Homo sapiens: one gene and its partner. The gene in region 2 interacts genetically with the main gene of each other region. Each region holds a gene or a part of one and is shown on either strand. Other genes may lie near its edges.

Region 1 (8,838 bases), on a different chromosome or scaffold from region 2:
CAGTTAATAAAGGTTTGAGGTAAAGATCCAGGGTGCTTGGTTTGTCATCCTGCTTTTGACCTCTGTAGGGCTTGGATTAATCAGTGAAATCTTCATTCTTAAGTATTTGCATACATAAAGTGGAATTAATCTGTGCCTTCCCTTCTTCCATATAATCATTTTTTAAATGATCTTTTAAAAATTGTGATAACATGTATGTAATTTATCAGTTTAACCATTTTTATATGTACAGTTCAGTGGCATTAAGTACATTCACATTGTTTTGCAACTACCATCTGTGTTCAGATTCACTACCATCTGTGTTCAGAACTTCATCATCTTCACATGAAACTCCATGCCCCCTGTTCTAACTCCCCATTATTCCTCTCCACAGCCTCTGGCAACCACCCTTTTACTTTCTGTCTCTATGAGTTTGACTACTCTAGGTACCTCATATAAGTGAAATCATACAATATTTTTCCTTTTGTAATCAGCTTATTTCACTTAGCATAATGTCTTCAAGGTTCATCCATGTCATAGCATGTGTCAGAATTTCCTTTATTCCATTGTGTATATGTATCTAATGCTACATTTTGTTTATCCATCTTTCGATGGACCCTTGGATTGCTTGCACGTTTTAGTTACTGTGAATAATCCTGCTATGAGCATGGGTGTACAGATGACTGTTTGAGACTCTGCTTTTAATTGTTTTGGTTATGTATCCAGAAGTGGAATTGCTAGATCATATGTTAATTCTGTGTTTGTTTTGGGGAACCACCAGACTATTTTCCACAGCAGCTGCACCATTTGCACAAGCATTCCAATTTCCTCACATCTTCACCAACATATTTTAGAATCATTTTGAGAAATGAAATAGTGAATACAAAAATATGCCATATAGAATGTAAACTTTACATTATTGCTACATACTGTGATAACAGTATTGGAAATTTGACAATGTCTTGCATTTCAGTGGTTTTGAGCAGAGAGATGGAATACTCTTTATAAAGATGGAATACTTTATAAAATGTATAACTGTTATTATTGGTGAAGGCAATTTACTCTTGAACTGTAACACTTTAGGGATTGATGAACCATTGCACATCAAGAGAAGAAAAGTAATAAAACCAGGTTTCATACACAGTCCATGGAAAAGTGCATACATCAGACAGCACAGAATTGATACTAACTGGAGGCGAGGAGAACTCAAATCTCCTAAGGTAACTGAACTCTGCACAATGTAACAGAAACCGTTAATCAGTGTTAGTACCTAGTGTACTATTTCACTTGGCAAACTGTATAATATGACACTCCTCTTCTGTAGAAAGAAAACCGTATATTTTAAAATAACTGAAAGTATTAACTGACAATATTCTTTTATTGCTAATTTCTCTAATCTGACAACTAATTGTGCTTGAATAAAAGATAAGTTAAATTGAGTATCTTTTTATCTTACGTAAATGAAAATCTCTCAATATCCTATTGAATTTTACTGTGTCATACACATTCTACCTAAGAATTTGCTGCCTCCTCTGATCACATACTCCAAACATGATTTTTTGAGGAGTGTCTGTGTTTTGGATTTGGTGACTTTTGTGTGTCTTATTTTTACAAATTGAAGCATAATTCTGGTTTTCTGTCTAATAACATTTCAAATACATAAAGAATGGTAAAAACACTTGAAATTATTGGGCGTATTTTTACAACTGGAAAAAACCAATTTGGGGAGACATTGTTATACTAATATGTATATATTATGATTTTTTTTGTTTTAAGAATGCTAATAATTGTTACTCTTTGTGGTTAATAGATGCTTATTTTGTTCTTGTGTGTCAAAGTTGTAAAAATTAGAGGCATATTCTTCTGGTTTGAACAGATGGAATAGATTATTGTCAAATACATTGGTGTTTGAACCATCTTTATGAGGTCTTGATGCAGTAAAACTTTAATAGTTGATGTTTTGAGTATAAATAATAGACTATGGAAACAATAAAATGTTTAATTCTGGATTCGTCAGCCAGGAAAAATAATGCTTTATATAAATTTAAATTCTAGAGATAGACTACAAATTACTGTTCCTGTTTATGCCTTCATTTTTCTCTTCACCAGTATTTTAAAGAACATAATTTAATTAACATATTTCTAATCTGCACATCTTTCTTATAGGTGCTGAAAGGACATGATGATCATGTGATCACATGCTTACAGTTTTGTGGTAACCGAATAGTTAGTGGTTCTGATGACAACACTTTAAAAGTTTGGTCAGCAGTCACAGGCAAAGTAAGTTTACTCTTCCTACACTTCACAAAGTCATAATTTTGTGTATATCATTGCAAGTAGCAACTGGAAAAAAGAAAACAATAATTCATTTTTGATTCTTAGTTATTTGGATAGCAAATATCAGAGCTCATAACTTAGCTTTTTTCCCCATATTTATGAAAGCCAATGGCATGAGGATAGTGATGCTTCTCATGATAGAGGTTTCATTAATTTTTTTTCATTTACATAGTTTGTCTATCTTTGTGACAGATACTTTAACATTTTCAAGGGTGCTTTATGTTTTTCTTGGCTCAATTTTTCCCCACTTTTATTTACTATCTAAGTTATACCTCATTACTTTGTAATGTTTTTCAAAAGTATGGTTGAGGGATATTTATTTTTCCTTATAAACTGCTTTGTTGATAACCTACCTGTAGTTTAGAACTTAATAAATCATGTTAATTTATACTTATCTCAAACCCTTGTGAGATGAGAGTGGACAAGGCATTTAAATGTTAAGTTTGAAGAAAAAGCCCAAGCAATCAGCTTGACTGTGTACCATATCATACCTTAATGATTCTCTAGTGAATATTTATTTTTATCTGTCCAGTAGAGAATATTTTCATGAATTAAGTAATTGCCACCTAAAAAATAACAGAAGAGAGTATGAAAACAAAAAAAAATCCATGTCTTTTAAAATGTCTTTTACCATGTTGCTTCTTGGCAAGTATCTTATAAATATTCCAAGTCAGATGTTAAAATTTTTTAAAGCAGCTTTATATTTCCATAGTGTAATATTAGTTTGGGATTTATTACAGGGCTTTAATGTCTGTCTTTACTTGTCTAGAAGTAGCTTCACTGGCTCCTAACTACTGCCCTGGGGCAGATTCAGATGAAATGTGGTATGTAGCCACACCCAATACTGTTGGCATACTTTCATTGAATCTATTCCCATGGAAGAAACCCAGTTGCAATTTCAGTATTATTTCATCAAAGAGGCCAGGCCAGAGCTATCATAACTGCTTTCATGTCGTGTTTCCTTTTTATTATATCATGTTTTATATCATATGTTTGCTTTCTACATACTACATACACAATTGCTTGTGCTTATATAAATTTATAATGCTTTTGAATAAACAAAACAATAAATAGTGATGGGATCATTTTATACGGATGTAATATTTTCTGAAGAGCCAAACAAATTAAATAAGTAACTTTACTCCAAATTTTAATGAGCTATTAAATTTTATTTAAATCACTTTTCCTTTCTACCCAAAAGTAATCATCTTAAGTGTTTTTCCAGTGTCTGAGAACATTAGTGGGACATACAGGTGGAGTATGGTCATCACAAATGAGAGACAACATCATCATTAGTGGATCTACAGATCGGACACTCAAAGTGTGGAATGCAGAGACTGGAGAATGTATACACACCTTATATGGGCATACTTCCACTGTGCGTTGTATGCATCTTCATGAAAAAAGGTAAGGGAAAATCTTGTCATGGTTGGGACTTCTTCCTCTATTATTGGTGAATTTGGGCCCTTTCTGTGTAGAGTTACTGAAATAGTGACAGTGTGCTCTTAAATTAGATTTAATTATTACACTTCAGATGTTTCTATTCTAGGAAAGCCATAGCGTTTTGTCTTAAAATTGGTGATTGTCTGTAAATTTCCTTTCTCATTTGCTAGTGTTGTCAGCTTCCTGTTTGAAACTCTCTACTCTCTAATCTCTAATCCTTTTTGTTGTTCTGTATCTTTGATGACTCATCATATTCAAGCAGAAATCATGTTTTCTCTCTCTTTTTTTGATATTCTTATTTCCGCAAGTGGGACAAATTCAGGCTTCAAGCGTCTGAGCCTTTTTAAATTACCTACCCACCTTACACCCACCCTATCTCTAAGTCTAGGCAAAAGCTGAGGCCTGTGGGTAATTTGTTCTCTCATTCTGAACTATTGTCACAGCTTTCTAACTTGGTTATCTTATGTTTTATACAGCTGACATATAGTCCTTTTATAATTATGATAGTGTCACTGCCCAGTTCTTAAGTCTTTTTGAGCCTACTGTTGACTAACGAATTAAGGAAGAAATCCTCGATCCAGTTTTCAAAATGGTTTCTGCCAAACTGGACTTTTTGACTTTCTCTTCTCAGTGCCTTTGCTGTTGCTTTTATCTCCTCCTGTAAAGCCCTCCTATTAAAATCCTATCTTTCTATTATCGTCATCATACCCCTGTTAAACAAGTGTGATTTCTACCTCATTTGTCAAAAAAGGTCTCTCTGAAAGGTCCTTACAGTGAATCCATGGCAGTCTTTACCTTTAATTCTGTCTATCGCATCTTCTTTATTAAGAACAATTACATTAAGCAGATTTCACACCAGATTTGTAATATGTGAAAAGGAGTACCTTTTCAATTGTCATTTACCTCTACTTTGAACAGTGTGCTATACTGTTAAAATTTGGGGGATGAGTATCAAGAGACCTTGTATTCCAGTTTCCATTATGTTCTCTCAACATTAGGTTCTCAATTAAAGGGTTCTCTCAACCCTTTAATTATCTACTTTTTTAAAATATGGAAACTGTGGTATTTCTTTATCTCTTCAGAATGACATAAGGATACCTGAGTTTTCAGCTTTGTTTTGTAATCCAAAAGTGATTACAGTATTTGTATATTGCTCTGGTTTTCAGAAGAGTATAGCGCTGATGTTGAACCAAATGTTTAAGGGATAGCCATTGTTTTTAAAGATGTACATATCTTTTAAAATCTTTATCTCTTAATATTTTTATAGCCTATTGCATATTTATAAATCTAATCATTAAAAGCATAAGCAGCCTGTGTTTGAGGACATGTCTAAAACTGGTTAATTTTTACTGGAATGTATAGTGTAAACACAAATCTGCAGCTGTTTAAATTCCAAATTCTGACTTGTTTTGTTGTATAAACTTTATTGAATTTTTTACCTAATCACAAGGGAATATATGCATTCATAATTGAAATTTTGGAAAATGGCAAAGAACATAAAGAAAATTTAAATTCTTTAAACCACTACCACCTAGAGTTCTCCCATTAACATTTTATACATATGCCCACATTAACATTTTATTTCTAAAATCAAAATCTTATTGTATATATTTAGAGGCAGCTTCTGCTGCTTTTTAAAAAATACAGTACAGTGGTTTTCAAACTCAGTCCCACAGAACCTTAAGGTGCTGAACCTAAGGTCCCCAGGTCAGGGAACCAAGCATGCAGCATTCTAGGCTTCCCAACTTCCCATTCCCTTATTATGTTTATATACCAAGGTTTTACATAGGATTTCTTTTGAAAATGGTTGTTGCTGTGTAAAAAAAAAAAAAAAAAAGCTAAAAAACCTTGACTAAATCTACCATGTTTTCTCATATTATTAAAAATTCTAAACGTGGGTTTTTTTGTTTTGTTTTGTTTTTCTGTTTCTCCCTCTGCAGAGTTGTTAGCGGTTCTCGAGATGCCACTCTTAGGGTTTGGGATATTGAGACAGGCCAGTGTTTACATGTTTTGATGGGTCATGTTGCAGCAGTCCGCTGTGTTCAATATGATGGCAGGAGGGTTGTTAGTGGAGCATATGATTTTATGGTAAAGGTGTGGGATCCAGAGACTGAAACCTGTCTACACACGTTGCAGGGGCATACTAATAGAGTCTATTCATTACAGGTAAGATCTCTTATCTCTCCCTTAAATGCTCTCCTGATGAATCATAAGGTTGTTTTACTCAGATAATCACTGTCAAATTGCTGATCCAGTACAGTCCAAAAAAGATTAATCAGATTATTCTGCTGTTTTTATATACGTTAAAATTGGCATGAAGAAAGTGTAAATTTCAAAATTATTTAAATGCTTTCAATTTTCTGTGATCTATTTCTCCTCTAAATACAAATATTTGTTTTGCAACCTGACACTTTGGGGCTCTAAGTTTTGCTATGTTAATTAATGGTTAAATAGTCTCATAGGAGAGTAACCTGGATTTTAAGAAACTCCTTTGCAGAAGATTAATATGGCCAAAAGCTGCCCCTTTGCTTTGATAGCTGAAAGTTGATGGACCATGTAATTGTGATTCCATCCCCATTCAAAGTGGAAATAGATCCTTTCTGCATAAAGCACTCTACTGTCCCAGGCCCACTGATTTGTAGTCATAAAGAAGTAAAGTTGACTAAACCGATTTCTTTTTTTTGGTTTATATTTCAAGCCCATATCCTTGAAAACATTGCCATATTTTGAGATCATTAACTAGATGAATAGGAAGTTTAGAATATGAATCTTGTTTTATTTCCAGAAAGGCAACATTTTTAATGTAAAAATATTTCCTATAGCTTATATAGTTTATTTACCAGTTATTACCCATTAATGTTCAGCAAATTAGTACATAATCTTAGTACTGTCAATTCTGTTCTTAGGATATTTGTTTCTTTGTCAAAGGGATATTGTCCATGTCATGAAATATTGACAATATGATAAAAATGTTTGCTAAATTAGAAAAGGTGATGAATTTGGAGGAAGGGGAATTGGCTGCACCTGTTTCTGATATGTTCAGAAGCTTAATGAATATAATATTCTAATTTAAATAAACTGTTTGATTGAGAAAAGAGGTAGCCACATTATTGTTTAGAAATGATAGACTGTTATTGACTTTTGGTGTAGCTGGGAAGCTGGAGAAGAGGTAGTATGTAGTTTGCTTTTGATTTCAAAATGCCACCTCTTCTGATTCCAGATACAATTATCTTTTGGCACATTTCCTAATTAGCATTAGGTTCTTATAAATGAAATTTTATTTTACACACAGTTTTTAATGGAACTTACTTTTGAACATCACGAAAGTTATCTCTAGCCCTTTTCATGCCTTAGGTGCTGATAAGCATTCCGTTTATCATAAGCTATGTCATTAGTCTCAGCTTCCTAGTGGGAAGTAAAACTCATAGCAATTCTCTCAGTCATCCATGATATATAGCTAGGTGGGGCCAGATGATTTGAAAATTAACATATTGTTCATTTTAGGTGCTTTGTTTTCATTTTAAGTTGTTTCTGCATCTAGTTTGAAGCTGCTTGGCATAAAGATGAGCCTTTCTGATAGAAGTGTGTGAGAACATACATTGTAGAGTTGCTTGATGGCATGCACTTTATCCTCATTGCCACTTTATCTTAGTACCTCATTTTGTTCCTGGCATTACCTGTTTCCCATCCTCTTCCCCCTTTCCTACTAGGATTAAGGTCAGTAATTGATAGGAAGAGTATCCATACTTCTATTCTAATAAACTGTGTCTTTTGTAGTTTGATGGTATCCATGTGGTGAGTGGATCTCTTGATACATCAATCCGTGTTTGGGATGTGGAGACAGGGAATTGCATTCACACGTTAACAGGGCACCAGTCGTTAACAAGTGGAATGGAACTCAAAGACAATATTCTTGTCTCTGGGAATGCAGATTCTACAGTTAAAATCTGGGATATCAAAACAGGACAGTGTTTACAAACATTGCAAGGTAAGTCTTACTCACCTTTCGTTTTGTTCATTAAAAATGAGATCATTATTCAAGAGAAATATGGAGCCTTAGCATCACAAAAAGAGTCAACCTCATACAGAATGGTTACTTCAGAAAAGTTTATGAATATTTTCACCCTGACTTACAGAACTAGTCTACTCTTGAGGAAATGTTTTAAACTGTGTTTTTAATATGTAATATAAAATTGTTTAATCACTTCCTGCATGTTCAATTGACTCTACTTAACCTTTAAGAACAGTGAGAAGAAAGATCTTGGCTATATCATAGAAGCAACGTACTCATTATATTTTTTGATTGACCATTGCATTTTGAATTTGTAGTCCAATTTTAAAGGGCTACCTTATTGAAAAAAACAACAGCATCCTTGATAGAAAATTTATTTGGCCTCCACTTAGTCACGTGCTTAACTGGAATGGAGAGGAATAATAGTGCCTACTAAAGTAGAGAAAGAAACAAGTGAAAATCACTAATATTAGATGAGGTACAGCAGTGCCTCATGATTAACTTTTTCTATTTGTTATAGCCCTTAGAAAGTGTTTTTTTCAGTGGGGCCATCTGATAGGCAACATTGCAGCTTTTTACTCATTGGTTTTGTCTCTCCTCAGAGTTTTGGAATAGTGACTGTTCAGCTTTGAGTGGTTCATGGTGGTGGGGTAATAGATCTCTTAGTGCTCATTTGTCCATCAGCAGAAGGTATGAAGTTGCACTATCTACATCCTCACCAAGGAATGCTGTCGTTCACACAGCCAGAAAATAAGATGTTTGTCTGGTAGCTAACCAAGCTTCTTGGAAGACAGACCTCTTGAAAGTTAATGTTTCAGTTACAAATCACTACCAGATTTTCTTACATCCATGCTGATCCTAAAATACTGAGGACATGGGTTTCTAAATATGTATCATTTCAAATGTTGCATTTATTGTATGTTCTAAAGTAGAAGTCTACAAATTATAATGTAACTAACTCATAGCCATTATTTCTAACCAGTAATTAAATTCTTTTGGTTTTTGTCTAGGTCCCAACAAGCATCAGAGTGCTGTGACCTGTTTACAGTTCAACAAGAACTTTGTAA
Region 2 (16,799 bases):
ATTCGCCTGCCTCGGCCTCCCAAAGTGCTGGGATTACAGGTGTGAGCCACCCTGCCTGGCCTGCAGCATTCTTTCCTTCATTTTTTTTTTTTTTTTTTTTTTTTGAGATGGAGTCTCATTCTGTCACCCAAGCTGGAATGCAGTGGCATGATGTCAGCTCACTGCAACCTCCACCTCCTGGGTTCAAGCAATTCTCCTGCCTCAGCCTCCCAAGTAGCTGGGACTACAGGCACATGCTGGCATGCCCAGTTAGTTTTTTGTATTTTAGTAGAGATGGGGTTTCACTGTATTGCCCAGGTTGGTCTCGAACTCCTGAGCTCAGGCAATCCACCTGCCTCGGCCTCCCAAAGTGCTGGGATTACAGGCGTGAGTGCCCGGCAGCATTCTTTCTAGTAAAACTTTTCTTTTTCAAGCCTACGCTGTCCTCAGTAAATTCTTCTTACTGTTAGAAATAAGTTCTTGGTGCCACAGAGAGAGACCAGCACTCGGAGAAAAGTTTCTTAGCAAGGCAAAGTTTACTTCTGCAGAAGCGTGCTGCCCAGACCTGTACCAAAAGCACACCTAATAAAGGAGAGCAGGGGTTTTTAACCCCCGTTGGCTAGGGTTGGACCTCACAATCTAAGCTGATTCCGATTGCCTATTTCTAATAGAGGCGGGGTATGGGTTGCAGCGGCGGGGAGGGGCAGTTTCCCCGGTAAGGGCAGTTTCTGCAGGAAGGACAGTTCATAGAGCAAAGGACAAGGAAGTTAGATTTTTGAAGAGGAACTCATTCTGTCTAACATTACCAACACTTTCGCTCCCGGGGCTCTGACATCTCGCCCGGCAAAAGAGATTTCTTTTCTTTTTTTAGATGGAAACGCCTCGTGCTTGAACAGGCTTGGGAGCGGACCAGGAGCCCGGGGAAAGGGACAAGTAGAGATGCAGGAAAGCAGGAGGACAGGAAGGAGGCCCAGCCGGCTCCAGCCACTAAGGGAGCTCGCTCGCCTCACTTCCACTGCGGCCAGAAAGTCAGCTTCGGCGCCTCCCCCGGGACGCTGGTTCCCCGCCTCAGATTAAGCTCGGCTGTCTGTACCGGATGCCCGCGCCTGCGCTGCACCGCCCTTCGCGGAGCGCGGAGCCAAATGCCTACATCCCACAATCCCCCGCAACGCCGGCAGGGGCGAGACCTCAGCTTCCAGCTCTGGGCAAGACCAGGCTCAGATTGTCGCGTAGTTTTCTGGGAAATGCCGTTTGCGTTCCAGGATGCTTATGCCACCTTTGAGACTACGCGACCCATAATGCACCAGGGGCGCAGCGTCTGAACGGTGCGCTGCCGCCCCCTCGTGGCAGATGGGCGGTCATTGCCGAGGCTAGGCACGCAAAGGTTGCGGGATCTGGGAGGCGAGCCCAAGTCCTGGGAACCCCTGGGAATTCCCTCCCAACCCCAAACTTTGGGCAGGAAAGGTGGAGTGTTGACGGGAAACGGTGAAAGACTTGCGGACAGGGCCTGCTGTGAGGATTAAAGGAAACCAGCCCAGTAACTGTTGGCTGTATAATCCTTAATAATGTGACACGCCACGTGCTGGTGTCACGGCATGGAGTCTCGCTGTGTCACCCAGGCTGGAGTGCAGTGGTGTGAACACAGCTCACTGCAGCTTCTACCTCCCAAGGCTCAAGTGATCCTACCACCTAGCCTTCCAAGTAGCTGGGACTACAGGTGCGTGCCACCACACCCGGCTAATTTTTGTTGTTGTTGTATTTTTTGTAGAGACAGGGTTTTTGCCATGTTGCCCAGGCTGGTCTTGAACTCCTGAACTCAAGTGGTCTGCCCTCCTCGGCCTCCCGGAGTGCTGGGATTATGGGCATAAGCCACCATGCCTGGCTTTTTTTCTTTTTTTTGAGACGGAGTCTCACTCTTGTCCCCAGGCTGGAGTGAAGTGGCACGATCTCAGCTCACTGCAATCTCCACCTCCTGGGTTCAAGCCATTCTCCTGCCTCAGCCTCCTGAGTAGCTGGGATTACAGGCACGCGCCACCACACCCAGCTAATTTTTGTATTTTTAGTAGAGTCAGGGTTTCACCATGTTGGCCAGGATGATCTCGATCTCCCGCCTCGGCCTCCCAAAATGCTGGGATTACAGGCGTGGGCCACCGTGCTTGGCCTCTTTTCTTTTTTTTTGGTTTTGAGACAGGGTCTTGCTCTGTCATCCAGGCTGGAATGCAGTGGTGCCATAACTCGCTGTAGCCTTGACCTTCTGGGCTTAAGTGATTCTCCCACCTCAGCCTCCCAAGTAGCTGGGGCTACAGGCATGCGCCACCATACCTGACTCATTTTTTGCATTTTTGTAGAGATGAAGTTTTACCATGTTGTCCAGGCTGATCTCAAACTCCTGGGCTTAAGCGACCTGCCAGCTCGGCCTCCCAAAGTGCTGGGATTACAGGCATGAGCCACTGTGCCTGGCTGAGTTGTACATCTTTTTTTTTTTTTTTTTTTTTTTTTTTTGAGACGGAGTCTCGCTCTGTTGCCCAGGCTGGAGTACAGTGGCGTGATCTCAGCTCACTGCAAGCTCTGCCTCCCGGGTTCACGCCATTCTCCTGCCTCAGCCTCCTGAGTAGCTGGGACTACAGGCGCCCGCCACCATGCTTGGCTAATTTTTTTATTTTTATTTTTTGTAGAGATGGGGTTTCACCATGTTAGCCAGGATGGTCTCGATCTCCTGACCTCATGATCCGCCTGCCTCGGCCTCCCAAAGTGCTGGGATTATAGGTGTGAGCCACCACATCCAGCCAGAGTTGTACATCTTTTTTTTTGAGACAGTCTCGCTCTGTCGCCCAGGCTGGAGTGCAGTGGCATGATCTTGGCTCACTGCAAGCTCCGCCTCCCAGGTTCTCGCCATTCTCCTGCCTCAGCCTCCCCAGCAGCTGGGACTACAGCACCCACCACCATGCCCGGCTAATTTTTTTGTATTTTTAGTAGAGAAAGGGTTTCACCGTGTTAGCCAGGATGGTCTCGATCTCCTGACCTCGTGATCCACCCGCCCTGGCCTCCCAAAGTGTGGGATTACAGGCGTGAGCCACCGTGCCCAGCTGGCTGTACATCATTTTTAAAGGCAAAGGATATCCCCTCCCTTCCCTTCCCTTTCTTCCTGGTAGCTACAGCAGATGAGGTGGGAATGATGAGAAGATGGGGGAACAGCAAGATATGAGGAGACAGAGGCTGGCCCCTGATACCGAAGGGCCACTATTTACCCAGTGGGTCCCCAAATCATGAAGTCCTCTAAATACTTTCTGGGTTTCTAGTGAATTTAATGCATGAGTCTCAAAAATCAATGGCAAAGGAAAAAATGAATAAAATTAAAATGGGGTCAGGAGAAAAGGGCCATGGGCACACACAGGAGGGGCAGTCAGTGGCTGAGCTAGGAGCTGAAGCAGGGGAATTCCTTAGGTGTCATATCTCGTCCAACCCGTAGTCCTCCTCCGGGAAGTCCCCCACCGTCACGACTGCTGGCTTGACAAAGGCGCCATACTTGGCCTGGCATTCGAAGTAGCGTTTCCCATTCACACTGCAGGAAAGGATAGGGGTGGGTGTGGTCAGAGGACCCTCACATGGCTCCACTCTAGAAGCTGGCATGGGCAGCTCAGCAAGCAGCACGCATGGACTTACACACAAATGCACACACAGACACCTGAGTGGGAATTCTTGTTACCTGCCATCATTTTTCCCCAGTGGCTCATCATAGCGGACACCAATCCAGTAGCCAGGCTTGAAATCTGTGAGACCTGCCAACAGAAGAGAAATCCCTGTGAAGCTTCTGGACATAGAAGAAATCCCCATGAAATTTCAGGATCACCCTGGATCCATGCCTACCCATTGAGTAGAAGCCTGTCTTGGTGAAAACCATTTCTTGCTACCTCTATTGCTACCACTAGGACCACCTCCAGCTCCTGCCGGGACTAATATGGTAGCCACTTCACTGGTGTCCCTGCTTCCACCCCTGTCCCCCATTCACTGGGTGAAGACACCAGCCAGTGAGGGCTTTGTAAAAACCTAAGGGGGATGGCACTACTGCCTTGCCAGAGAGAGAGGCTTCAGAATAAATCCAACCTGCTGACAGCTTGATCTTGAACTTCTAGCCTCCATTACTGTGAGAAATAACTTTAAGTTGCTCAGTGAGTGGTACTTTGTTAGCAAACTAATACACAACTCAGCGACAAAAGACAGCATCCCAATGAAAAACTGAGCAGAAGAATATACAAGGAACTCAAAGAACACCCACTTTGCAAAAAAAAAATCCCATTACAAAGTGGGCAACAGGAAGTTGAGGCTGCAGTGAGCCACGATCATGGCCAAAGGACATGAACACACACTTCTCAAAAGATGACATACTGGCCGGGTGCGGTGGCTCACGCCTGTAATCCCAGCACTTTAGTAGGCTGAGGAGGGTGGATCACGAGGTCAGGAGATCGAGACCATCCTGGCTAACACGGTGAAGCCCCGTCTCTACTAAAAATACAAAAAATTAGCCGGGTGTGGTGGCGGGCGCCTGTAGTTCCAGCTACTCGGGAGGCTGAGGCAGGAGAACCGTTTGAACCCGGGAGGCGGAGGTTGGAACGAGCGAGCTGAGATCATGCCACTGTATTCCAGCCTGGGCACAAAGCGAGATTACGTCTCAAAAGAAAAAAAACAAAACCAAACCCCGACATACCGATGGGCGCAGTGGCTCATGTTTGTAATCCTAGCACTTTGGGAGATCCACCAGCTCAGGTGGATCACTTGAGGCCAGGAGTTTGAGACCAGCCTGGCCAACATGGCAAAACCCTGTCTCTACTAAAAATACAGAAATTAGCCAGGTGTTGTAGCGCTCACCTATAATCCCAGCTACTCGGGAGGCTGAGGCATGAGAATTGCTTGAACCCGGGAGGCAGAGGATGCAGTGAGCTGAGAGCACCACTGCACTCCAGCCTGGGTGACGGAGTGAGACTGTGTGTCAAAAAACAAAAGGCAAAGGATCTGAATAGACATTTCTCCAAAGAAGATACACAAATGGCCATGCAAAGATGCTCAACATCATTAGCTGCCAAAGAAGTGCAAATCAAAACCATGATGATGTTCCACTTCACACCCAGTGGATGACTGTAAGCAAAAGACAGACTAAAGTGCTGGTGAGGATGAGGACAAAATGGGACCCTTCTGCACTGCTGGCGGGAATGAAAACTGCTGCAGCGGCTGTGGGAAGCAGTGTGGCAGGTCCTCAAAAAAGTCAAGCACAGTGTTACCATGTGGCCCAGGGATTCCACTCCTAGGCACAGAGAAATGAAAACAAATGTCCACATAAAAATGTATTTTTTATTTTTTGAGATGGAGTCTTGCATGGTTGCCCAGGCTGGAGTGCAGTGGTGTGATCTTGGCTCACTGCAACCTCCGCCTCCCAGGCTCAAGCGATTCTCCTGCCTCAGCCTTCCGGGTAGCTGCGATCACAGGCACCCGCCACCACGCCCAGTTAATTTTTGAATTTTTAGTAGAGATGGGGTTTCACCATGTTGGCCAGGCTGGTCTCAAAATTCCTGATCTCAGGTGATCTGCCCACCTTGGCCTCCCAAAGTGCTGGAATTACAGGCATGAGCCACCATGCCCAGCCACACAGAAATTTATAAAAGAATGTTCAGGCCTAGCATGGTGGCTCACACCTGTAATCCCAGCACTTTGGGAGGCTGAAGCAGGACGATCACTTGAGCGGGAAGAGTTTGAGACCAGCCTGGGCCACATGGCGAAATCCCATCCTACAAAAAAAACCACAAAACTTTAGCCGGGGGTGGTGATGAGTACCTGTATTCCCAGCTACTCAGGAGGCCGAGGTGGGAGGATGGCTTGAGCCCAAGAGGTTAAGGCTGAAATGGCCGAGATTGTGCCACTGCATTCCAGCCTGGGCAATAGCCAGATGCTGTCTCAAATTAGAAAAAAAAAAAAAAAAAAAAGAAGAAGGTTCATAGCAGCATTATTCATAATAGCCAAAAAGTGGAAATGACCCTAATGTCCACTAACTGGTGACTGGATACACTGTGGTCTAGGCGCTCAATGCAGGACTATTTGGCAACAGTGTGGCACTGACACAGGCATGCCACGGATGAAACTTGAAAGCATTCTGCTCAGTGGAAGGCGCCAGTTACAAAAGGCCACAGACTGCATGATCCTATTCCTATGAAACATCCAGAATCGGCAAATTAGAGACAGACGTAAATTAGTGGCTGAAGACGACTGGGGGATGGGTACACACAGGCATAAAGACGGAAATACCAGACAGTGGGGATGCCAGAAACAGGAGGGTGGTGAGGGTTGAAAAATTATCTGTTGGGTACGATGTTCACAATTTGGGTCATGGGTACACTAGAAGCCCGGTCCCCACCCACTAGCAGGCAACACACCCATGTAACAATACATATATGTACCCCGTGTATCTTTTTTTTTTTTTTTTTTTGGAGACAGGGTCTCCCTCTGTCACCCAGGCTGCAGTGCAGTGGTGCGATCATAGCTCACTGCAGCCTCAACTCCCGGGCTCAAGCCATCCTCCCACCTCAGCCTCCCAAGTAGCTGGGGCACCTATAGGTGCTCACCACCACAACTGACAAAAGTTTTGTGGGATTTTTTTTTTTTTTTTTTTGTAGAGACAGGGTCTCATTATGTTGCCCAGGCTGGTCTCAAATTCCTGGGTTCAAGTGATCCTCCTGTCTCAGCCTCCCAAAGTGCTGGGATTACAGGTGTGAGCCACTGCACCCAGCCTTTTTTTTGAGACTGGGTCTTTCTCTGCTGCCCAGGCTAGGGTGCAATGACACAATCATAGCTCACTGTAACCTCCAACTCCGGGGCTCAAGCAAGCCTCCCACCTTGTTCTCCCAAAGTGCTGAGTTTACAGGCGTGAGCCATCATGCCTAGCCTGTTCTTTTTAAAAAAATCCACACTGCTCTCCACTGTGACGCCGCCCTGCCCATGCCCCTGACTACACTTCTCCCCTCTCCTCCCGCTCCCCTTCCCCAGGTGGACCTCCTGCGCTCTGCTCACCTGCACCCGCTACTCCTTCTGGCGGGAACTCTTCCTCCCTTTTCACCTGGCTGCTGCCTCCTTTCCTTCAGATGCTCCCAGCCTCCAGGTGCTTCCTCTGGGCTCACACAGCCCCCTGTGTTCCCTCACTCCTGCCTTGGTCACGCCGCCCGTTTCCCCACCGCGACTGACACTGCCCCACGCTTCGAAGCGCACAGGCCGCGTGCCTCTGGCTTCTGCTTCCTCCCTCGCTGGACAGATCACTCCGCCTGCGCCTCCCACTTCCCTCCACAAACACTCTGGGCCGTCAGTGTCGGCAGATGGTTCCGTCACCTCCAGGGACTGAGATCGTTTCGAGTCCCCCCCAACCCCGCGCCCCTAGGCAGAGCGTGGTCTCCGAGGCTCCACTGTGCCCCCAACATTTCCTCCCGGCCTTGGAGCCCTGGAGCCCGGGACCGGGCCCGCGAGCCACGCACCTACATACATGACGGTGCCCCGGCGAGGGGATTGTCCCGCCGCCCGCACCTCACAGCGGCTGCCCACGGGGATGGAGCTGGCCTGGGCCTTCTCCTCGGCCAGGCGCTGGGCGGCCTCGGCCTCCTGCTGAGCCCGCTCCTCCTCGTTGTACCGGCCGAGCTTGCTGCGCTTCAGGAAAGAGCGGACCGTGTCTGTGGGCAGAGGGGGCTGGGGTCAGTTGGGGTGTCGGCCGGGCCTAACAGGATGACGCTCCACCCACGAGGGGCCCACGTTCACGGAGGAACTCTCTCTTCCAGGTGACAAAGGGCTGTCACCCAAGCCCCAGGTCTCCCACCACAGCCTTAGCCTCTCCCAGGACTCCTAGGCCCCCCAACTCCACAATCGTAAATGGAAGGGGTGCCGCCTGCACCCCTCACTACAGGACCCATGGTCTCTCACCCCTTCAGCGCACATCTGCCTTCATCATCCGCCTTCCTCCTCCGCCCTCCTCCGGCCCTGAGGCCCCCGGTCTCCCCCAACACTCGATCCGTCCCAGGCGCCCTCACTGACCGCCACCCTGTCCACTCGCATTCCACCTGTCCTGCCCTCCACACCCCGTCCGACCGCCCCATGCCCCCATCTGACCCTGACAACACCCAGCCCCCACACCTACCCCTCAACTCCCTCCACTTTCCCAGCCCTCCCCCGACCACGTCTGACTGCCCATACCCCTGACACCTCCCGGCCCTCATTCCCACCCCAGGCCTCCGTCTGTCCCCACTCCCAGCCTCACCCCTATATCCTCCCAAGCTCTCGGCCCCCCGTCTACACCACTGGCCTCCCTGCAGGGGCCCTGTCTAACCTGCCCGCCCTCATACCTGCACATACTCCCTCTGGCCCCCACGCACCCCTCGACGCCCACCTGCCCGTACCTTGCCTCTGGTCGTAGGCTTCTTGTGAGATCGTGTACTTCTCCACCCGGGACACGTCCTCATACTCACCAAGGCGGGCGCCACTGTGGTCAATGACCTGTGTGAGGGGAGGGGCTCCGTGGGGATCAGGGTCTGGCCAGGGAGGCCTGGGTGCTGGGTGCAGGGACTTCAGTGTCTCCATCTGGGAAAAACGCATCTCCCTCCCTCGCCTGTACTGCAGCCTTCTCTTCTCTCCTGAGCCCAGCGGAAGGGAGAAGTAGCTACGTACACTGGCCACCTCCCCTTCCTCACCCCCATCCAAGCTCCCAGAGGCTGCCTCTGTCCCCAGAAGTTCCCCGCTTGCTGGCATCAACATCGCCAAGGGCCCCAAAGTCACAGAGTCCAACCGGCAGAGCTCAGGCCTTGCCCACAGCCCTGTGCACAGCGCATCTCCTCGATGGGCCTCTGGGACTCTCCTAAGCTGGCCCCAACCTCAGGCCCCAGAGCATCTCTTCCTGTTCTGCCCCCACTATTCATTCATTCATTGGTTTCCGAGCTCCCAGGGGCCCAGCTGGGCCTCATGCTGGGGACTCAGTGTAAACACAGACGCACTCTGCCCTCAGGCTGTGCTCATTGTGCAGGGAGAAGGCCAACCACAAACAAAGGAACAGGTACCTATGAAACACTGGAGGATGGCTATGGAGAAAAATATGACAGGGAAGAGGCTTAAGGAGCATGGGAGGGTAGGCTTCCCAAAAGAGGGGATGTTTCAGCCAAGGCTGGAAAGATGAGCAAGAACGGCAGGTGCAGACGGCCAGAGGTAGAAATGTCCTTCACGCTCTAGAGTGGGTGGTGCGGGTGGGGTGGAGCGAGCCAGAGGGAGAGTGGAAGACACAAGGGACTGCTGGAGACTTTGGGTTTTTTTTTTTTTTTTGACGGAGTCTCGCTCTGTCACCCAGGCTGGAGTGTGGTGGTGTGATCTCAGCTCACGGAAACCTCTGCCTCACTGCAAATTCAAGTGATTCTCCTGCCTCAGCCTCCCGGGCAGCTGAAACTATAGGCACACACCACCACACCCGGCTAATTTTTGTATTTTTAAGTAGAGACGACATTTTGCCATGCTGGTCAGGCTGGTCTAGAACTCCTGACCTCAAGTGATCTTCCCACCTCAGCCTCCCAATGTACTGGGTGGGATTACAGGCACGATCCACCGCACCTGGCCTAGACTTTGGTTTTTATCTGGAGCGAAGTGCCACCAGGGCAGGGCTCTGAGCTAGGAGGGCCCTGGCCTGACTCAGGTGGTCCCAGGCTCCCTCTGGCTGAGATGGGGAGCGGGGAGGCCAGGGAGGAAGCTGCCGGGATGGCGAGGTTGGGGGAAGGATGGAGGCTGGACCAGGGTCAGGGAAGTTTTTGTAGGTGGAGCCGAGAGGATTTGATGAGAGTGGATGTGGGGGTGAGGGAGAGAGCGGGCCCAAGGAACACCCTGAGGTGTCTGGCCTAAGCCACTGGGCTAACATGGCAAAATAGGAATGGCCTTTACCTCCGGATGAAGCGTCACTGAGAATTTCTGTTGAGAATTTTCACAAATTTGAAGTTCTGTTATTTTAAACAATGAATATGGGTGATATTTATAAAGAGAAAAAGAATTTTAGAAAATGTAAAAATTCCCCAGTGGCTCCACTCTGGAACACCTTCCTTGAGTGGCCTGGGAGGTCTGTGTGTACCTGAACCGCCTGTTATGAAACCTGCTCAAAGATGCCACTGCCTATGAGGTGCCTATGAACACCCGCACCCCTTAGCTTCAGCTGCCCAGGGTGGCCCAAAGGCTCAGTCCTGTGCACCCAGCAGAGGCCTGACCCACAGCTCCAGACCTCGTCCCCTCATCAGGACTCTCACAGCAGCCCCTTCCTGGTCTCCCTACTCTTCCTGTCCTCCACCACCTGTTCCCCACACACAGCCAGAGGGGGCCTGTGAACACCTGAGCCAGGTCAGGGTCCTCCCCAGCTTCCACAGTGTTTGGCCACAGAAGTGGCCTGTCTTAATCCCCACCGCGCTCCCTCCCACCTTGGAGTGTTTGCTGGGTTGTGCCCCACTCCTAGGGCACCCCTTCCCCATCTTCAGTTAACCTTTTTTTTTTTTTTTTTTTTAAAGATAGGATCTCACTCTATCATCCAAACTGGAGTGCAGTGGTGTGATCTCAGCTCACTGCAACTTCCAGCTCCTGGGTTCAAGTGATCCTCCTGCCTCAGCCTCCTGAGTAGCTAGGATTACAGGCATCTGCCACCACGCCCAGCTAATTTCTGTATTTTTAGGAGAGACGGGGTTTCACCGTCTCGAACTCCTGACCTTAAGTGATCTGTCCACCTCAGCCTCCCAAGGCACTGGGATTACAGGCGTGAACCACCATGCCCGACCAATTCTTTTTATTCTTCTCGTCTCTGCTCCAGCAGCACCACCTCCAGGATGTCCTCCCAGACGTCACTGATGCATCAGGTACCCCAGGATAGGGTCTCCCAGCTTCATGATCTCCTACACAACCCTTGTCTCCCCTGACCCTTCACATTCAGTCCTCTGGCCATTTAGCCAACATCTGCCTCATACACTAGAACTTCTCAGATGCAGTCATAATGAAACCCCTGGCACAACACAGATGGGGAATGAACAGTTAATCAACGAGAGAAAAAAGAAGCAGTTCTCTCTAGAGTCATGTAGACTGGGGCCAAAATGCTACTGACAGTTCATCCTTAAGAAAGTAGATTCTGGGCCGGGTGCGGTGGCTCATGCCTGTAATCCCAGCACTTTGGGAGGCCGAGGTGGGCGGATTACCTGAGGTCAGGAGTTCGAGACCAGTCTGACTAACATGGTGAAACCCCGTCTCTACTAAAAATACAAAAATTACCCTGGTGTAGTGGCGGGCATCTGTAATCCCACCTACTCGGGAGGCTGAGGCAGGAGAATCGCTTGAACCGGGGAGGCGGAGGTTGCAGTGAGCCGAGATCATGCCACTGCACGCCAGCCTGGGAGACAGAGCAAGACTCTGTCTCAAAAAAAATAAAAAATAAATAAATAAACTCCACCCTGAAGCTAAATTTTCTCTTCTGCAAAATGGGGATAATTACATTATCCTTGTGGTCTTACTTTATGGATTCAATTCATCATTCAACAATGATTCACAGGGCTGGGCGTGGTGGCTCATGCCTGTAATCCCAGCACTTTGCGAGGCTGAGGTGGGCAGATCACTTGAGGTCAGGAGTTCAAGACCAGCCTGGCCAACATGGTGAAACCCCAACTCTACTTAAAATACAAAATTACAAAATTAGCCAGGCGTGGTGGTGCACACCTGTAATCCCAGCTACTTGGGAGGCTGAGGCAGGAGAATAGCTTGAACCCAGGAGACAGAGGTTGCAGTGAGCTGAGATCACACCACTGCATTCCGGCCTGGGGAACAAGGGCAAAACTCTGTCTCGAACAAAACAAAACAAAAAACGATTCACGGACTATCCTCCCTGTCCCAGGCACTATTCCAAGTACTGGGGACACAGTAGTGAATTATAGTGATCAAAATTTCCACCCTCAGGGCACTCGAATCCAGGGAGACAGAGAGTAAATAAACCAGATGAGAGAAATCCAGAGTGTGTCAGAGGAGAATTACTTGTAAACACAAAAATCTAAAATAAAGCAAAGAAGGGGAAAGGAATGAGGTAAACGTTAACACTGAGGCCGGTGAAGACTTCACTAGAATACTGACACTTTAAATTAAGACAGGAAGGAAGGGTGAGGCACGCAGGCATATGACAAAAGAACCATTCAGGCCCAGGATCCAGAGGCCGAGCTCACCTGGACTGTGCAAGGAGCAATGTGGCTGCTACAGACTGAGTGAGGTCGGGAGGGAATAAGGACAGAAAGGGGCTGGGCTTGGTGGCTCACGCCTGTAATCCCAGCACTTTAGTAGGCCAAGGTGAGCTGATCACTTGAGGTCAGGAGTTCCAGACCAGCCTGGCCAACATGGCAAAAACCCATCTCTACTAAAAATACAAAAATTAGCTGGGTGGGCACCTGTAATCCCAGCTACTCGGGAGGCTGGGGCACAAGGATCACTTGAACCCAGGAGGTGAAGGCTGCAGTGAGCCCGATAGTGCCACTGCACTCCATTCCAGGTTGGGTGACAGAGTGAGACTCTGTCTCAAAAAAAGACAGAAAGGATGTACTGAGTGGATGCACAAAGAGATCCTGTGTTCTGGTTTCTCCCAAGCTGTCCAGCCTGGTCGCTCACTGTGACCTACCTCACATTCTAGGCCTCTGTACACCCTGCTCCCTCCTTTCCACCTCTTTCTCTTAAGTCACCCTTTCCTCATCCCTCAGCTCAGACATCCCTTCCTCCAGGAAGCCCTCTCTGATTCTCCCAGGTGGAGTCAGGCACCTCTTCTTGGTGGCTCCAGTCCCCTGGGATTTCCTGATCCCAGCCCAGACCACTCTAGGCTGTCCCTGTCTAATGATGGGTCTGTCTCTCGTCAGGCTGCACTGGAGGCTCCACGAAGGCAGGACCTATCTCGGGTATGACTGAGGGCAAAGCCCAGCAAGTGTCTGTTGAATAACCAAATGAAAGGTGGGGTGGGGGAGTGTCCCAGATAGAGAGTCCTCACGTGGATGCGGCAGCCGTCATCTACAGGGTAGGAGCCCAGGAGCGCATCCTCTTGATCCAGCTTGCTGTAGAACTTGTCGTCAACTCCATACAGCTCCAGTTCCATGCAGGAAGCAGGGCTGCCCACCAGCAACTCCAGTTTACACTGTGAGGAGGAGGCAGGGTGAGAAGAAGGAGGCCACGGAGGCCCCGCCCCTTGCATCAATGACCATCGCCACGTCCCTTTTCCTCCAAAAGACCCCCCAGTCAGGACGCACGGGGCCGCAATCCAGCCCCTCGCCTCTTGCCCCCGCCCTCTGGACCGTCGGATTTTTCGCTGGACCCGGCCCTCATCTCTGCACTCTCGAGTTCTCTCCGGACCCGCCCCGCCGCGACCGGGTCCCCAGCCTCCGCAGCCTGGGATCACCTCCGGGCCCGCCCAGTCACTCCCCGGCCCCTCCCAGCCTCCCCCTTCCGGGAACCCCCCAATTTCTTCGCCCCGCCCCTCCGGACCCCGCCCCCATGGCCACACCTTGAACTCAGCGATGGTGAGGCTGCGGCTGTATCGCTTCTCGGAGCGGAAGGTGTTGAGGGAGCTGCTGATGAAAACGGTCACCGTGGGTGCCGACACCCCCGTCACCTCCATCTTGCCGCGCCCTGCGGATGCCTGCAGCGCGGTCCAGCCGCCTCACACCCGCTCCGCAGCCGCCGCCGCCGCTGCTGCTGCTGGGCTATCAGCCCCGCCTCCTGCTCCGTGCCTGACCAATCCGCGCTCTCCTGCCAGGAGCGTCCGCCAATCGCCGCCGTCCCTTCCCCACCGCCAGGAAGAGGGCTCTCCTTACTCTTGGGCCAGCCCAGCCAATCCAGAGGGGCCTTCCATAGTTCACGGTTCTTCCAATAGCGGCCCGGGAAAGGACCAGAACAGGCGGCGAAGACTGAAGCCCGGAGGTAGGAGTGGCAAGAGCTCGCCCAGTCCGCGAAGGGTAAACTCGCGCATGCGCACTGGCCTTCAACCAAGCCAAGCGCCTTGGCTTCTGTCCTGGATGCTCAGTGTTTTGCGGTTTACGATGCGCATCGTTTTCCCGGCTCTGGCACCAGATCCATACTATTCTGTAAACTGAGGCGGCGATGCCCAAAAATTGGAAGCAATTACTCTAAGATATCAAAAGATTGAAGCAAGCCATGAAACCTCTGCGCGGAGAGAGCCGAGCCCGAGGCGGCGGGGAGCCAGCACGTGTGCGCAGCTCCGCCCTCTTTTGGCGAAGCACCTAGGCCTGGCCCCTCCCGCGACCTGTAGCGCGGCGGAGCAAGCGCGGAAGGCTGGGAGGGCTGCGCGGGCTGCGCGTCGCCATGGAGCCCGACGGGACTTACGAGCCGGGCTTCGTGGGTATTCGCTTCTGCCAGGAATGGTGAGGCGGAGGGAGCGGGTGATGTTAGAAGGCGGGCGAGGAATGGCTCCAGAACTAACCCCTGGCACCTCCCCCTCCCCACAGTAACAACATGCTGTACCCCAAGGAAGACAAGGAGAACCGCATTCTGCTCTACGCGGTGAGCGCCGGGGTCTTCCCCGGCAGGTCCACCTGTTCCCAGCGTGGCCCCGCCCTGCCCCCTGCCTCTGTGATCGGACTCCCTGTTCGCCCTCCGCTGCACCTCAAGTGATCCTGACTCTCATGTCCTGCCCATCCCCAAAGAGAGTCCTGTCGTCATATCCTCCGGGATCACCCTGCCCTCTCCTCCCAATCTTGTCTGGAATCCTTCCGTGACCCCCTTTCCCCCACACTCGCCCTCTCGTAGTGCCGGAACTGTGATTACCAGCAGGAGGCCGACAACAGCTGCATCTATGTCAACAAGATCACGCACGAAGTGGAGTGAGTGGCGGGCCCTGAGCTGGGGGCGGGGGTGTTGGCTCTGGAGGCTGGGTCTGAGCGTAATTTTGCACCCCCGCGTCCCTGCAGCGAACTGACCCAGATTATCGCCGACGTGTCCCAGGACCCCACGTTGCCGCGGACCGAGGACCACCCGTGCCAAAAGTGAGCGTTCAGCTGGTACTGGGGAGGTAAAGTGAGGCTCGTCTCCTCACTGGGCGAAGGGAGGAGGGAAGGGTGTGAAGCCTCCGGTGACCGAGCCCCTACCCTCTCAGGTGCGGCCACAAGGAGGCTGTGTTCTTCCAGTCACACAGTGCGCGGGCCGAGGTAAGTGGCGCGAGGGCTTTCTAAGTATCTGGGGCTTGTTTGGTCCTTTCTGGGGGCGGGGATATCAATGTGGGTGACCCTGCGCTTCTTGGAACTCTGCCGGGCCCTTACCTATTGGTGAAGTTCTCTTGCCTGTTCTTTTGGGGTAAGGCGCTGCTGGGTCCAAATCCTTCCTAACCATGCATCATTTCTGCCAGGACGCCATGCGCCTTTACTACGTGTGCACAGCCCCACACTGCGGCCACCGCTGGACCGAGTGACCTCCTCTCTCCCCCGAGTGTAATAAACACCAGATTCCATGCGTGAGTTTTCTGTGTTTATTTGCCTCGTGGGGAGGACGCTGGCACACCGTATCAGGCTGCGCGGTGCAGGGCGCGGTGCTGTGCGTAGGTGTCGGGCCGGGAGCTGGTGAAGCCGCAGTCCTCGCACACGTGCAGCTTCTCGCGGCGCTCACGGTAAGCGTAGCTGGCCGGCTGTCCATGCACCTTAGCAAGGTGAGCTTCCAGGGAGCAGCGCTGCGTAAACGCTTTCCCGCAAGCACTGCAGCGGAAGGGCCGGATCCCTGCACAGATGGGCGCAGAGGGGAGGGCTGGACAGAGAGGGCAATGGGCTCTGGACTAAAGCGCCCCCACCCTGCTTTCCAGTGTTGAGCATTTCTGGTACCTATTCCAAGCTCTTCAGACTCTTCCGCCCATGACCCACCATCTGCTACCGTCACCCAGTGCAGACATGGGCCAGACACCTGTGTCTCCACTCTCCCTCACCAGGATGCTCCCTCCCCTGGGGGATGGAGAGGGAGGCCTTCCCTTGCCTTTCGATCTGGAGCCTGAATCGTATAACCGGCATCCGTCTGCACTCTGCATTCCGTGACAGGCCCCTATTTTGGTGCCACCTTACACCCACCCACTGGGGTCCGAGAGACATCATGTCTTGATTCTCCATACCCCACATACACAAACCATGGACACTCCACAGCCCAGCACCTCTCTCCATTTCCTTCCATCCCCACCTGGGGCCCAGCAACTTTTCCCTGTCCCTGCCACTGCTCACCAGTGTGAGTCCTCATGTGGCGCTTGAGATCGAAGGCGTCATGAAAGCCCTTGCCACAACAGCGGCACAGGTGGCGGCGCACGGGGCTGTGGCACTTGAGGTGCCTTGTCAGCATGCGCTGCAGAGGGAAGGCCTTAGGGCAGAGCGGGCAGCCCAGCGTCCCAGGGCCCCTGGGAGCAGAGGTCAGGTTGCCCTGTGTGGGCTGCTGGAGGGATGCAGGAGTTATTAGCCTCTCTGGCTGGACCCCATCCACCCTTTGTTACTCTGCAAATGAGTATTTACAGAGTGTCCTGAGCCACCACGGAGGATTAGGAAGGCAGGTGGGAGACAGTGATTAGTGTGTGTGCCTGTCACTCTCCAGGGCCTTCCCTCACTATCCCATGGTCCTTACTTTCTCTATGCCAAGTCCCATCTTCTGATGTGACATACACATTTTTTTTTTTTAAAGACAGAGTCTTGCTCTGTCGCCCAGGCAGGAGTGAAGTGGTATGATGTCAGGTCACTGCAACCTCCGCCTCCCGGGTTCAAGCGATTCTAGTGCCTCAGCCTCCCCAC

What was found.
Region 1: changes in TBCB (region 2) and FBXW7 are lethal when combined (synthetic lethality), as found in Homo sapiens cells (one study listed by BioGRID).

The regions. Positions count from the first base shown.
Region 1 is NC_000004.12:152,323,093-152,331,930, reverse strand, and holds part of FBXW7 (F-box/WD repeat-containing protein 7), read left to right. Parts: intron 1-1,062; coding exon 1,063-1,199; intron 1,200-2,145; coding exon 2,146-2,259; intron 2,260-3,541; coding exon 3,542-3,723; intron 3,724-5,699; coding exon 5,700-5,925; intron 5,926-7,536; coding exon 7,537-7,747; intron 7,748-8,781; coding exon 8,782-8,838. UniProt on the Homo sapiens protein: Substrate recognition component of a SCF (SKP1-CUL1-F-box protein) E3 ubiquitin-protein ligase complex which mediates the ubiquitination and subsequent proteasomal degradation of target proteins.
Region 2 is NC_000019.10:36,112,410-36,129,208, reverse strand, and holds TBCB (tubulin-folding cofactor B), read right to left. Parts: upstream 13,742-16,799; 5' UTR 13,649-13,741; coding exon 13,535-13,648; intron 13,440-13,534; exon of another isoform or gene 13,281-13,439; intron 13,169-13,280; coding exon 13,025-13,168; intron 8,500-13,024; coding exon 8,403-8,499; intron 7,683-8,402; coding exon 7,491-7,682; exon of another isoform or gene 7,036-7,490; intron 3,759-7,035; coding exon 3,686-3,758; intron 3,542-3,685; coding exon 3,427-3,541; 3' UTR 3,268-3,426; downstream 1-3,267. Other genes in the region: POLR2I (DNA-directed RNA polymerase II subunit RPB9), read left to right, coding at 14,353-14,411, 14,496-14,550, 14,797-14,870, 14,958-15,032, 15,143-15,194, 15,392-15,454; OVOL3 (putative transcription factor ovo-like protein 3), read right to left, coding at 15,548-15,756, 16,245-16,449.